Linked DNA regions of Homo sapiens: region 1 is linked to region 2. The links come from fine-mapping of genetic effects on gene expression. A gene starts in region 2. The other region holds a variant in brackets. All regions are shown on one strand. Distances are between the middles of the regions.

Region 1 (4,000 bases), 21 kb after region 2:
GTGTGGGCACCTAGCCCCTAAAGGCACTTCCCACTTTGGCTGAGGGTTCAAGAACAGAAAAACACCCCTCCACACACTCCCCCACAAGACTGTCCTGTCCAGATCACTTGGCAGCCTAGCATCTGTCTGTTTTGTCTTCTTAGCCCAGAAAAATGCACAGCTGAGGGGCTGGGCAAGGCAACGCGGGGGGACTGAGTGGCTGCCAGTGCCCCTTCTGCAGCCCTTCCAGCTGCCCAGCCTGTGCCTAAGTCAGGAAAAGAACCTGTGACTTGTCTCCACTCAAGGTCCTTGGGGAGATGGTAGGAAGAAGGTCAAAGTGAACTCTGTGATGTATATGGCAAAACACAGGCTGGGAACCGGAAAGCCGGTCTCTACCATAAAACAGGGCTCTATCTGAGAGGCTGCTGAGGAACAAGGGAGGAATCACTGTGGCAAATGGGGGTGGGAGGAACACCAGGAGGCTGACAAAGGCTGTGATGCTGGGAGCAGCAGCTAATGAATGCAGGCAGAAACCCTCTCATTTTTGTGTCAAGGAAGCAAAGGCACTGAGGCGCCTTTCCCAAACATCATGGTACCACCATTCACACTGAGACTACCATATCCAGGTGCTCTTGAAGGCAGCTCTCTGTATTAGAATCACCTTAGGGGAGATTTTTTTTTTTGGGGGGGGGGAAATGGAGTCTCACTTCTTTGCCCAGGCTGGAGTGCAATGGTGCGATCTCAGTTCACTGCAACCTCCGCCTCTCGGGTTCAAGCAGTTCTCCTGCCTCAGCCTCCCAAGTACCTGGGATTACAGGCACACGACAACATGCCCAAGTAATTTTTGTATTTTTAATAGAGACAGGGTTTCACCGTGTTGGCCAGGCTGGTCTCAAACTCCTGACCTCAAGTGATCTGCCCGCTTTGGCCTCCCAAAGTGCTGGGATTACAGGCAGAGCAACCACACCCAGCCTGGGAGAGATTTTTAAAAACTGTTAGTGATTTCCCCCTCTGCTTTATTGATCTAGTGGGGGTGAGGGGTGGAGTTGGCAATGTGTTTTCAGACCAGCTACCCAGAAAGTCTGGCCGCCCAGGCTTAGGAACCAATGGTTTAGCCTACTGGTTACTTGTCCTTGCAGGCCAAGCCCTTTATTTAAGCCAAAAAGCTTACACAGAAGTTCAAAAAACATACACACAGATGAAAGGCCTTGAGATGGGGAAAAATAGAAGTTGCCTGTGGGAGGAATCAGAGGGCAGCTAGCTTTGGAGCCAGAGGAGAGCAGCTCCTACATCCCTGGCTGCCCTGGGGGCTAGGCCAGGACACTCCTCCCCCACAGCTGACCACTACAGCCTCTGCACCAGGTTCCTTTCTCACCCAACAGCCCTCGCCAGGGGGACTGCTGCCCCTGCCCCGGTATGGGCTTTGGGAAGGCTTCCCTCAGGAAACTGCATATGAAAGGAGTCCTGACAGCCAGGAAGTAATGGGAAGGTACCCATTCTACCACTGTATACCCAGCACAGAGTCCCGGGCCTGGCACGTGGTATATCCCCAACCATTGTTACAGTAAAGGATTGGGGCCCAGAACCCTGCCAGGTAGCCACAGATCTAGTCCAACCAATAAATTGGGCTTAGAGGATGTCGAAGGGACCTGTGAAAATCCTTTACAAACTACTTTTTTCCCTAACCCTCCCAACTGCCTAGCCCCAGGCAAGTACCAGCAAACCAGTTAGTTGAGTCATTGACTTGCTAATGAATCGCTCCTGGGAGGGTTAAAGGAGACAATCAAAAGAGATGTCCCCAGGGAGAGATAAAACAAGCTTGGCAAAATGTTGATACTTGTTCAAGCCGAGTGACTGGTGCTGGTGGTTGATTATTATATTCTCTTACTTTTGTGGAGTTTTTTTTTTTTTTTTTTTTTTT[A/TA]AAGACAGAGTCCCGTTCTGTAGACCAGGCTGGAGTGCAGTGGCATGATCTTGGCTCCCTGCAACCTCCACCACCCCCGGGTTCAAGTGATTCTCCTGCTTCAGCCTCCCGAATAGCTGGGACTATTTTTAGTAGAGACGGGGTTTCACCACATTGGTCAGACTGGTCTACAACTCCTGGCCTCAAGTGATACACCCGCTTCAGCCTCCCAAAGTGTTGGGATTACAGGCGTGAGACACTGTGCCTAGCTTTTTTCTCTTTTTTTTTGAGATGGAGTTTCACTCTTGTTGCCCAGGCTGGAGTGCAATGGCAGGATCTCGCTCACGGCAATCTCCACCTCCTAGGTTCAAAAGTGATTCTCCTGCCTCAGCCTCCTGAGTAGCTGGGAGTACAAGCATGCGCCACCATGCCCAGCTAATTGTCTATTTTTTAGTAGAGATGGGGTTTCTCCGTGTTGGTCAGGCTGGTCCCAAACTTCCAACCCCAGGTGATCCGTTTGCCTCGGCCTCCCAAAGTGCTGGAATTATAGGTGTGAGCCACTGTGCCCAGCCTGCGTTCAGCTTTTATAGATATTCTTAAATGTCCTTAATGGAAAATGAAATTTAAAAAATTAAATACAGGAGGCCGGGAGCAGTGGCTCACGCCTGTAATCCCAGCACTTTGGGAGGCTGAAGTGAGACCACCTGAGGTCGGGAGTTCGAGACCAGCCTGGCCAAAATGGTGAAACCCTGTCTTTACTAAAACTACAAAAATTAGCTCAGCCTGGTGGCAGGTGCCTGTAATCCCAGCTACTCGGGAGGCTGGGGCAGGAGAATTGCTTGAACCTGGGCAGCAGAAGTTGCAGTGAACTGAGATTGCGCCACTGCACTCCAGCCTGGGCGACAGAGTGACTCCGTCTCAAAAAAAAAAAAAATTAATTAATAAATACAGGAAAAAATGATGCTCCCAGGCTTTAGGCTATTTTTCATGATTAGGAGCCATTACATTTCCTTACTTCTGAGGTCCTGCCTGTTGACCCTTCCACCACTTTATAGCCCTTTTCTGCCACTTCAACATTATTTACTGAGCACCTACCTACCAGATACCAAGCACTATGCTACACTAGGGCTGTAACTGTGAACACTAGGTCAGTGCTCTCCACACCTCTAGAATTTGGTGCAGTCTAAAAGCAATTACAGTTTAGTGTCCCAGTGCTGTGACCTCATCTATCTGCTGTGAGAGCATACAGCTCCTTTAGGGACTGGGAGCCTCCTGGTCAGGGGTGGGAGGAAAATGGTCTGGGGAGGTGGATCAATGTAGTGGGAATGTAGGGGACCAGGGTTGAGGTTCAAGATGTAGACACGGGCCGGTGATGTCATTAGGCTGGCAAAAGCCATTGAATTTTTTTTTCTTTTTTTTTGAGATGGACTCTTGCTCTGTTGCCCAGGCAGGAGTGCAATGGTGCAATCACAACTCACTACAACCTCTGCCTCCCGAGTTCAAGCAATTCTCTTGCCTCAGCCTCCTAAGTAGCTGGGATTACAGGTACCTGCAACCACGCCCAGCTAGTTTTTTTTTCTTTTCTTTTTTGAGACAGAGTCTCAGTCTGTTGCCCCGGCTGGAGTGCGGTGGCTCAGTCTCGGCTCATTCCAACTTCCGTTTCCCAGGTTCAAGCAATTATCCTGCCTCAGTCTCCCAAGTAGCTGGGATTACAGGCACACAGCACCACACCTGGTTAATTTTTGTATTTTTAGTAGAGACGGGGTTTCGCCATGTTGGCCAGGCTGGCCTCAAACTCCTGACCTCAGGTGACCCACCCGCCTCAACCTCCCAAAGTGCTGGGATTATAGGCATGAGCCACTGCGCCCAGCCTAATTTTTTTTATTTTTAGTAGGACAAGGTTTCACCAAGTTGGCCAGGTAGGTCTCCAACTCCTTACCTCAGGTAATCCACCCGCCTTGGCCTCCCAAAGTGCTGGGATTACAGGCATAAGCCACAGTGCCCAGCCTTTTTTTTTTTTTTCTTTTTAGAGATAGGGTCTTGCTCTGTCACCTAGGCTGGAGGGCAGTGGCATGATCATAGCTCACTGTAGCCTTGAACTCCTGGGCTCAAGAAAGTCTC
Region 2 (4,000 bases):
GTGCATGCCACGAACAAGTAGTCATAGCCTCTTGCATGAGGTCACTTTAGACCCATGAATGAATGGACTGGCCCAGCCTTCAGGAAGGCAGGAAGGTAACCTGCCTGACCTGAGATGCTCCTGAGGAGTGGTGCACCAGACCCAGGAGTGCCACTGTAGGGCTGCTTCTTTGCTTTAGTCATCACACACACACACAGCTCCAGAGCAGCAATGGCCTTTCCTGTAACAGGAAAAAAAGCCTCTATTTAAAAAGAAATGATACCATGAAAATATAAGATACCCAAGACTTACCCTGCTATTCCCAAGAACCCTCGTAATGGCAAAACTCCCCAAATGACACCCAGGACCACAGCAATGATCTGTCGGAACCAGTAGATCACATCTAAAAATTCATCCTGTAGAAAAGACAGAAAATGCAAGAATTATCTGGAGTGGGTGCCACAAGACAGCAAAAGGGGAGAATATTAAACCTTTCTGCTAAACATATCCAGGAAATTTGTTTCCCCCCAAAGGCAACAGTATGTGCTTCCTGTTTCACCTCTTACTTATACTAAAATGTGGTAGAAATGATACATTTAGGGGCTGGGCGTGGTGGCTGAAGCCTGTAATCCCAGCACTTTGGGAGGCCGAGGCGGGTGGATCACCTGATGTCAGGAGTTCAAGACCAGCCCGGCCAACATGGTGAAACCCTGTCTCTACTAAAAATACAAAAAATTAGCCGGGTGTTGTGGCGGGCGCCTTTAATCCCAGCTACTTGGGAGGCTGAGGCAAGAGAATTGCTTGAACCTGGGAGGTGGAGGTTGCAGGGCAACAAGAGTGAAACTCCGTCTCAAAAAAAAAAAAAAAAAAAGATACATTTAGACATCATTAAGCGATCACTTCCAGAATCTGTGCTCTAAATCAAAATTCTAGAGGTGCATATATAATATGGCCTGTAATGAAATGACTGTGATAATAATTGTGCTACTGGCCGCACATACGGATTAGAACCATAAATGCTGGAGGCAGGTGCCACTATATTTAAGTTTAATGGAAGAACACAGACGACTCAGGTTTCTGATCTGCCCTAGATTCCAGAAACCAGTCCTTATACAAGAAAAGAAAGAAATGACACAGCAGATTAGAGACTGCAGGTTTTGCAAGAGCTGGGCAGGGCTGGGGGCAGAACAAGGGCACCTTCAGGAAGTGCCTCCCATCCCCCTTTACAGGAACTTCAGGAAGGAAAATCCACTTCGGCAGCCCAGAAAACCAAGAAATGACTGCAAATATAATACGCTTTTCAAGCTACCTGGAATCAAGCTGTTTGTGATGGCCCCTTCCAGATCATGGAGCAGAGTTACGAAGCATCCTCCGAATGGGACGAGTAAGAACGTTCTGAAGTCCCAACCAATTCTCGCACATATCTGGTGGCGTTTCTCCACCCCCACACCTCACACTCACCCAGCGGGTGGTCTCAGTCTCCCCTCTTGACTCATGCTTATCAAAGTATTCGGTCCTTTACATTCAACAAGCAACAGCAGCTCAAGATTAGCGAGCCTCACTATGTGCAAAAGGCTTTAATGTACCACAGTACCCCACTTCAGAGTTATTCTGAGTTAAACGAGATTCCGCTTGCAGAGCACCTGGCACGTAGAAAGCATTCTCAGCAGAAGTCTGTTACTGTTAATGTTTGTGCTACTTAATTCGAAAGAAACAAGTAACCTACTCAAAACCCTACTGCACATAAAAGGCGGAGGCCGAATCGAATTCAGCTCCCTTTCCCAGTTCAGGCACAAACCCTGCCCGCGAATGACAACGCCTCTCCCCGCTCCTCGCCAATTCCGCATAACTAGGGGGCTTCATCCTTAGGCCACCCTTCGGGGAGCTCCAAGCCCAGCTGTCCGCCCAGTGCCCGCCAAGTTTGCTCTGACACCCTTGGGCCACCCGCCCCACTGCCCTACTCGATTGTGCCGGAACGAGGACGAGGGCAGGCCCGCGCCAGTCTTCCGTTCCCCGAGTCCCAGCCGACTCCTCGCACCCGCGCCCTGTTCAGACTCCACCGTACCTTATCCTCCCAGGCCGCGTCGCTCCGCAGCACCTTACTCCAGACGGAGACTTTGAGGGCCCCGTTGGCCAGCTGCGGCTGAGGCGGCTCCTCCTTCCGCCGCCCGCCGCTCATCCTCCCGTCGCGCCGCCCGGGCCGGGCCTGGGGCGCGCGGGCTGAGCCAAAGGGAGTCGGGGTCTAGGGTCGCAGGTCACGGCGCGGGGCGGCTGCAGGCTCAGCGGCCCGGTCCTGCGGCGCGCTGCGGTTCCTCACAACCTGGCCAAGCTACCCGGTTCCGCCGGCTCTACAGAGCAGGCGCCGCGAAGGGAGGGGCGGTGCAGTGTCGCGCGCCCTCCCGCCGACGTGCTCACGCAGCCAATCGGCGACCGCGAAGCCATCCGAGTGAAACAGCGACCGGCGCCTTGGCGCAAGCGCGCTACTCGTGGCGGAAATGACGTCAGCATCCGCCGGGCTCGCGGTAAGGTGTGAGGGGAGGGACAATCTTGGTAGAACGGTGACATGGGCGCCAGGAGGCGCTGTGGAGACCGAGGAGGTAGGGGAAAACCGAGGCTGGACGTCAGCGTCGCCCAGTCGGCCACAGCTGCCCCTCGAGCAGCGAGTGGGGCAGGAGCGGCTCTACCTTTCCTTGCGACCTACTCGCCTGCTGAGCCCAGACCTTGCTCCAGGGTAGCTCCAAGCTGCCCCACAGGATTTAGCCCGCTTATTTTCTCCCCTAACCCTGCAAGTTCTGTAGGGCCTTGTTGAAGATGTTAACTCTTCTGTAATAACTAACCATTTCATCTTGCCCAGCACCCTCTTTTGGCACACGAGAGCCCTGAGACCCCAAAAGAGGAAATGAGATTCTGAGGCCGTATAGCAAGGTGGACCCAACCGGGGACTCCTGGGCGGCAAATACAAGGATTGGGTTAGGTATCAGGATATCTGAGTGTTCACATACAGCGTCCTCACCATGTGCTGCGTCAGTGGTTCACAAAGTGAGCTTCCGGATCAGCAGCGGCCGTATCGCCTGGGAACTGGGTAGAGGCGCAGGTTCTCGGCCCCCATTCCACGCCTACTGACTCAGAACCCCTGGGGATGGGGCTCCTTCCGGTGGCCCTCCAGGTGGTGCCAGGCTCACTGTGCTGGTAAGTCCAGAGACCAAGGCACATCCCTTCTGGACAGTGGATTTTTTTTTTTTTTTTTTTTTGAGACGGCACGGTCTCTGCTCACTGCAACCTCCACCTCCCGGGTTCAAGCGATTCTCGTGCCTCAGCCTCCCACGTAGCTGGGATCACAGGCGCCCACTACCACGCTCCACTAGTTTTTTTTGTATTTTAGTAGAGACGGGGGTTTCACTATGTTGCCCAGGCTGGTCTCGAACTCCTGAGCTCAGGCAATCCGCCCATCTTGGCCTCCCAAAGTGCTAGGATTACAGGCGTGAGCCACCTCACCCGGCCTCTGGACAGTGGATTTATAAAGACAAGTAATGTATCTGGTACCTGGGTGTGTCTGACTCCAGAATCTGTGCTCTTAACCGTTAAACTTTAAAGCTGAGAGTATCTTTTTTTTTTTTAAACAGGTCAGAGTATCTTTTGCATACCTATCAACATTCACCTGTAATTCTTCACTTTTCAGGAGTAATAGAACCTCCCTAGGGAGGCCAGGCGCAGTGGCTCACTCCCATAATCCCAGCACTTTGGAAGGCCGAGGTCGGTGGATCACTTGAGGTCAGGAGTTCGAGACCAGCCTGGCCAACATGGTTGAAAGCCCGTCTCTACTAAAAATGCAAAAAAAATTAGCCGGGCGTGGTGGTGGGGACCTGTAATCCCAGCTTCTCAGGAGGCTCGAGGCATGAGAATTGTTTGAACCTGGGAGGTGGAGGTTGCAGTGAGCCAAGATCGCGCCATTGCACTCCAGCCTGGGCAACAGAGCAAGACTTGGTCTCAAAAACAAAACAAAAAACAAACAAAAAACCTC

Direction of the effects. Alleles are on the strand shown, and positions count from the first base shown. SD is a standard deviation of normalised expression in the study named.
For the expression in B cells of the gene that starts at base 2,331 in region 2, allele TA in region 1 goes with a lower level than allele A (moderate effect, 0.44 SD a copy in Fairfax 2012).

The links. PIP is the estimated chance that this variant, and not a neighbour inherited with it, causes the effect.
Region 1: its variant is the best candidate, but not a certain one, in a credible set for the expression of RAB5IF in B cells (Fairfax 2012, PIP 0.61).

The regions. Positions count from the first base shown.
Region 1 is chr20:36,583,366-36,587,365 of GRCh38, reverse strand. The region is part of intron 2 of TGIF2 (TGFB induced factor homeobox 2); the gene reads right to left. The region is part of intron 2 of TGIF2-RAB5IF (TGIF2-RAB5IF readthrough); the gene reads right to left. Among named protein-coding and RNA genes, the nearest start is that of TGIF2-RAB5IF, 11 kb to the right of the region's middle. RefSeq lists an enhancer at 899-1,888. The variant A/TA (reference allele first, on the strand shown) is at 1,901.
Region 2 is chr20:36,604,110-36,608,109 of GRCh38, reverse strand. It overlaps RAB5IF (RAB5 interacting factor), which reads right to left and starts at 2,331. Exons shown (of 4, transcript NM_018840.5): 1 at 2,045-2,331; 2 at 292-395. The coding sequence starts at 2,158. It overlaps TGIF2-RAB5IF (TGIF2-RAB5IF readthrough), which reads right to left. Exons shown (of 5, transcript NM_001199535.2): 3 at 292-395. RefSeq lists enhancers at 1-1,186, 2,538-2,677, 3,408-3,457 and silencers at 2,028-2,337, 3,017-3,416.